Regions from separate parts of the Homo sapiens genome. Here region 1 is reported to be linked to region 2. The links are microRNA targets in miRTarBase. Many come from high-throughput screens and were not tested one by one. Region 2 holds a microRNA gene; the other region holds the end of a gene's coding sequence.

The links. Region 2 holds the annotated microRNA hsa-miR-491-5p (AGUGGGGAACCCUUCCAUGAGG, at 1,667-1,688, opposite strand). A microRNA usually pairs through its seed, bases 2 to 8, with sites in the 3' UTR of a target mRNA and lowers its output. Matches are read on the target gene's strand: a 7mer-m8 pairs with bases 2 to 8, a 7mer-A1 pairs with bases 2 to 7 and ends in A, and an 8mer does both.
Region 1: the mRNA of TRMU is a reported target of hsa-miR-491-5p. The part of its 3' UTR that is shown has no 7-base or 8-base seed match.

Annotation. Positions count from the first base shown.
Region 1 is chr22:46,356,700-46,360,166 of GRCh38, forward strand. TRMU (tRNA mitochondrial 2-thiouridylase) reads left to right here. Exons shown (of 11, transcript NM_018006.5): 11 at 143-641. The coding sequence ends at 307. Among named protein-coding and RNA genes, the nearest start is that of TRMU, 23 kb to the left of the region's middle.
Region 2 is chr9:20,714,808-20,717,807 of GRCh38, reverse strand. MIR491 (microRNA 491) reads right to left here and starts at 1,703; the gene lies at 1,620-1,703. FOCAD (focadhesin) reads right to left here. Exons shown (of 44, transcript NM_001375567.1): 2 at 2,398-2,486; 3 at 1-14. The coding sequence starts at 2,454.

The sequences.
Region 1 (3,467 bases), not on the chromosome of region 2:
CAGCAGCAAAACCCTGCTCCCCTGGGAGCTCAGTGCCTGGTGCTCCGAGCACAGGCCAGGCCCCATAGGGGAGCACTCTGCCCCTGCCTGCCCTCGGCTGGCTCCCTGTGGCACCCCTGATGCCAGGGTCTCTCCCCTACAGTTTGCTGTGTTCTACAAGGGGGACGAGTGCCTGGGCAGCGGGAAGATCCTGCGGCTGGGGCCGTCTGCCTACACGCTCCAGAAGGGCCAGCGCAGAGCTGGGATGGCCACTGAGAGCCCCAGTGACAGCCCAGAAGATGGTCCAGGCCTGAGTCCCTTGCTCTGACAGAGATGGATCTGCTAGAAGGAACCTGGAGAGCAGGACCCATGGCTGGGCGGCTGGTGAGCAGTCCAGGTGCCCAAGGGCCAGCTTGCTGCTGCCCAAAGCAGAGGAAGCCGGGCTGGCTGAGGGTCCGAAAAGCCTGCAGGGGCCCGGCGAGCCCCAGGAAGAGCCTCAGCTCCAGGCTGGGGCTCTGGCTGCTGGAGCATCTGCTGGCTGGTGGGGTGGCCCGAGTTCCCCTTCACCGCCCCCAGGGAGGGTTTCCCACCTCAGAGTACACCGAGGGGACCTGCAGAGGGGGCTGTCGGGACAGCGTGGAATAAACATTATTTCAAGGACACATAGTCTGATCGCTGCTTCCACTGGGGCCCAGGGGGCTCCACATCACTGACTCCCTGGCGTGGAAAGGCAGGTGGACTGCAGACGCAGCCATGGCAACCTGCGTACCTCTCCCTGAGGTCCCAGCTGCTCCATCCTCTGCCCCCGTATCCCTGCTCCTGGACTCCAGAGTAGGTGCCTGCGATGCTGACCTGTGTCCTTGGCTCTCTTCCTCTTGCTGGGCTTGAGTCCTTCGTAGCGTGTTGTTGGTGCCTCAAGACAGGTTCCTGCGGGGACCAGAGGTGCATTCCCCTTCTCTGGGTGGGAAGGTTCCAGAGGCAGCCAGGTGGTGCGCAGAGGGCCTTGCCCAGATGCCCTGAGTTCTTGCTGGTGCGTCAGGGTGGGGGCTGCCATGGGGCCCACTGTCCATCCTGACCCCTCCTCCCATCTCCCCACTGGGTGTCCCCTGACCTGGGGCACCCTTCCTTCTAGCCTAGGCCCCCACGCAGCAGGGAGTGTCCTGAGGGTGAGGAGTGGGCCAGAACCCCGCAGGCCAGGTGAGGAAACGGGGCCTAAGGTGGAGCCGTGGCCCTTGCTGGGCTGGGGTGGGGAGGTGGGGGGTGTGGGGTCAGTGCTGCCCTGGCCAGGGGCAAGCCCCAGCTCTACCAGGCAGGCAGAGCGCTGGCCAGTGGGACCAGACAGGCCCCTGGGGATCCTCGGCCCAGCTGGGCATGGAGGCCGAGCTAAAGCGCCGCGTTTGTTCTGCCAGCTCAGCCCAGCACGGAGCCTCCCTGGGCTCAGGGGTTCCCTGATTTATGGCTGTGGTCGGGCCTCCAGCCTGGGAACTGAGGGTGGGAGAGCCCTTGTGGTGCCTACTGCTCTGCCCTAGGTGAACCCTCCCAGGTCACAGAAACATGAGTAGGTGGGAGGTGGGGCAGCCAGGCAGAAGGTGGTGTGGGCACCAGGCCAGCAGCGCTAAGGCTGCCCCCGCTCCAACCTCCAGCGGGCTCCACCGTCCTGCCAGCCTCAGGGCCTGTGCATCGGCCAGTGGAGGAAGCGGGGACACAAACCTGCCTCTGCCCCCTTGAGCCCCCAGGCTCCATGGTGACAGCTTCCTGACTGGCAGGGCTCCCCTCTCTAGCAGGCACAATGGCCTGCCCTGCCCCCTACAAGGCCACTGGCCAACTCTGGAGGGCTTTGGTGCGATGTCTCAGAGATTCAGCAGAAACTGTTGGCCAGGGGACCAAGTCTCCAGGCTGCTCTTCTGGCCTCTTTCCTACCCTCCCCAGCACCCAAGGCTGGCACACTCCAGAGGCTGTGCCCCTCAGATGACTTCTTGAAGACCTGGGGGCCTCCAGGAGCACAGGTAGCTAGGTAGCCCCTTCTGCCTGCAAGGGTACCCCCAGTGGCCTGGCCTTAGCCCCTTGCCACACCTATCCATGAAGACGATGGGGGAACATTTTCCAGGCCAAGAGCTGGGTGCCTGTACACCTACACCTACTCCCTGCTTGTGATACAAATGAAAGCAAAGCCCTCGCTCTCCTCTCCCCCTACGTTGTTCCCGGATAATCTCAGTGATACATGGGTCCTAGGATGATGCCCCCTCACCTCACACCTGGGAGGCTCCTTCCCGAGGCCCTGAGCTGGTTTCAAACACCCTGAGCCTGCCTTCTCCCCAGTCTCTGGCTCCCATGTTGCCCTGTGCCGGAGCCTTGCCTGGGCCCAAGCCCCTTCCTTCTTGGGGAGGTTTCTTTTTTTTTCTTTTCAAGAGACAGGGTCTTGCTCTGTTACCCAGGCTGGAGCGCAGTGGTGTGATCACAGCTCACTGCAGCCTTGACCTCCCAAGTAGCTGGGACAACAGGCATACACCACCACACCCAGCTAACTTTAATTTTGTTTTAGAAACAGTCTTGCTATGTTGTCTAGGCTGGTCTTGAGCTCCTGGCCTCAAGCGATCTTGCCTCAGCCTCCCAAAGCACTGGGACTACAGGCATGATCCACTGTGCTAAGTTTTAAAAACTGTAGAGATGGAGTCCTGCTGTGTTGCCCAGTCTGGTCTGGAACTCCCGCCTCAGCCAGCCACTGTTGGGATTACAGACATGGACCACTGCCTGACCCTCCTGGGGGTCTTAACAAGCCTTGCCTCCAGGCTGAGGAGCCCAAGGCGAGGCTGAAGCTGTGACTGAAGCAGCTGCGGTCACCCCTGTCACCTGGGCCGGGGGAGTCGACGCCCTGTGGCTTGGCCGGTGTTTGTGCTGTCATCTGTTCAGGCAGGATCACAGAGGGGCTCGTTCAGCCCTCACCCGTCACGGTCTGCTGCGGATGCTCTGCGGAGCACTTCGTGGTCCTCACATGGACATCCTGGCCTGGCTGATGGACAGGCCTGCTCCGGGCTACCTGGACTGCTTTCTCTCTCTCAGATGCTTCTAGTATTTTCCTGCTAATCATGGCTTTGGGGTTGAGGTAGAAATATTCTATCATGTTAGCCACTGAGCATTCTAGGATGTAAACGTTAGCAGGTGAACTGAGGAGAAAGCAACAACTTGAAAAATGACCTCAGGCACATGGGTGGTTTTTCCTCTCTCAGATTTGACCCGGGGGTGGCCCTAATCTGTGGTCCTGTGCAGCCAGCACCAGGGCAACAACTCCAGAGAGGCCTGGGAAACGGGGGCACTGTGGACTAGAGAGGGTTGGGGTTCCCATTTTTCTCTCTTTGCTGTCACTACTTTTCCTTAAGGGTGAGCCCTGTTTCCTTAAGGGTGGAAGCGTGAGACAGTGCAGGTGGCTAGAGCTCTGGGAGAAACCCATCTTTCTGGACAGAGAAACCAAGAAAAGGGACCCCAGAAGT
Region 2 (3,000 bases):
AGATGACCCACAGCCTTAAAAAGAAATAAAATTAATGAACACAGTCCCTTAGAAGTTCTTTCCAAATATCAATACTAGTTGATATGAGTATGCCAGGCAGTCAATTAGGATTAAGTAAAATTCCCATTAACTAAGTGTGTGCTATGTAGAAGGCATTGAATTAGGCACTCCACATGCACAATTTCTAATCTTCAGAATAGCCCTCAAGGTAGGCATATCTATCCCAGGTTACCAATAAGCAACTATAGTGCATAGAGGTTAAGAAAACTGCCAGATTTTTGGTTCAAATTGCTGTCAGTATCAGAAGATAACTTGAGATTGCTTACTCCATTAAAACATGAATGAGAAAGCCCATAGTTTTTAAAATCATCTTTGCACTGAAACGAAATCCACCATGCTTCATCACACTGTTAACGAATATGAAGAATATGTCTTAGAGCCAATAGGCTAGCAACAATCATTGCCATTCTGTGTACGGGTTGGAAACTACTTCACTATTGCTACAACTGTCCATCCTGCACTTGGGACCAAATTACGGTATAGCTGTGAATAACTGTCAGTCCTGCAAAGTCTCCAGAACAGCTCAAATAAAAACACAGCACCCACTCCTTCCTCATTTTTCTCTTTGTATTTCACACATTGGAACTGATTTAAGACCGTGGTGCTTGTGGTCTAGTTTTGTGATATAAGTCACTCATTTACATGAATATTAAGTTTAGTCCAACTTACTGTCTCTTATCTCCTAGTAAAAGGAATAGTAATAAGAACTGAGCACCCATGGATAGGTTGAGCTCCTGTTTTACAAAACATACCATATTTCATTGAATGGAACTGACCAGGAATTGCAAGTTGCACCATTATACTGTGTGCCACTAAGAAAGAAAAAAGGCTGCCAATTAGTCTATGATATACAGTGCTTCTTATAAGTCGGAATTTTGGTTTTATAGTCACACAAGAGTTCTTTTAGACTCGTGTAGAAAATCATGCCCAAGTTCACAAATGTGCAGGCAATACCAACTGTATCTCAACTGCTGCCATCAATTACTAGAGGCAATCCAATTTCAAAGATGTTAAAATCTGAAAAAAAACGTGTGTGAATCAAAGAAATATGGTGCTAACATCGAGCAGTGGTTACAGAAGAACAATAAGAAATATTTGCAAAGGACAGGACACAATCACAAGAACCTAATAAAACTAATATGAAACACAATAGGGACAAAGAAAAAGCTATAGTTCATATCTAGAAAAAGAAATAAAAGAAGAGAAGCTTAATTCCCCATTCCCCACCAGGTTGAATTTATCTAATATACTTTTCACTTCATCTTCTAACAAATCAGAGATACTAGCCTAAACTGATTTTTTAAAATACAAAACCCAAGGATAAATCAGCCTACATTGCTACTTAAGTGTTCTATAACAGAATTCAAATAGCCATCCTACACTAAACAATATAAATATATATATATATTTTTTTCACCTAATTTAACAGTAACACGTATGGGCATTTCTTGATTATCTATGTTAACAAAGAGACTCCAGGCACAGAAAAATAAAACTGTGAATAGTATCCTCCAAGCCTTCATCTTCTTCTTCATGGTAAGGACCTGCAGGATATGACTCCAACCCAGCCAGGTAGAAGGGAATCTTGCATAAGGAGTGTTCTACTCCTCATGGAAGGGTTCCCCACTACCCAGCTAAGTCAATTCCCACAGCAGACATCTCCGAAGTTAATTGTTGAAAGTATCCAAGGTGCTGTATGTTGTTAAGTCTTCAAGATGGCTTCTGCTGGTCTGTTAGCTTTACTCTCACAAGAAAAGACAATAAGCTATTATGATACCTTGATTAACCAGAATGTTTCTAGTTAGCTAAAGGCTACCCAGAAAGCCATCTTTGTTTTAACTATTTAATTATTGAAAAGCTCTTTAAAGTTATCACAATCTTCTATCTTAGTAGATATATCAAATTTTCTAATCCAGGATATTTTACTTATTAAATATCATTATTATAAAAATCTATATAAGGGGTAGGATATGTCTTCTTAAATATTAATCCCTCATACTCTTCAGACATATAACTGTTTACCTCTGTTCCCAATAATCATAGGCCAAAAAAAACCAAACAAACATATTCAGGGGCCTACTAGTTAATCAAGGTTTTATTATCTCTAGGAAGAAAAGTATGATATATAAACAGAAGCTGAGATTGATCAATTTCAAATATTTGCTTTCCATGTCAAATATATATTTTCAAATTAAATGTATATTTAAAGTTGTTTCACAAAATATAAATCTCTACATGTAGAATAAAATATTTAATATTAAATATATAAAGTTCAGTTAAAAATCCACAGAACAGGTTTATTTGTTACCATGAGCAAAAATAAACAAACAAAATTACCTGTGATTGGATAAGAGAATTTGGAAATTCAAACCTTTTCCTGATATCATCTGACATTTTTGCTTCTCTTACATGTATGTGTGCAGCTTCTGTAACCAAAACAAAAGAATATTTGTTAGTCTTCCAACTGGTCTGAATTGGGGCTCCAATTAATTATTCCTCAAATAATGTGAATGTAATCCATTCCAAAGATAACAATGGAAATAAAGCACAGGGCTCTGCAGAGTAATCCTTGGCAAAACTTCATTGTCATCCAGCACTCAAATGTCATGATTGATAAATAAACTAAAAATGCCCAACAGCTCTTGGTTTTTCCCATGAGAGCTAATCCTGAAAAAGATGAATTTGCACTACGGAAATGAAAAAAACATCCAAAAGTTCAACCACACATTTGAAATAGAAATTAATTCTTTTGTGGATCAAAACTTATAAGGGAGAAAGAGTCAAACGGTCATAAAATTACTTCATCTATGCCTCACTTTGGCACAAGCTTTCATCTAAGCACTAATCCAACTGCTAGTGACAAGTGTGAAGCCTAGGTGAACTTTTTTCAAGAAGTATAGAAAAGACCTAGAAGTTCACACATTAAAACAGACTGTTTCC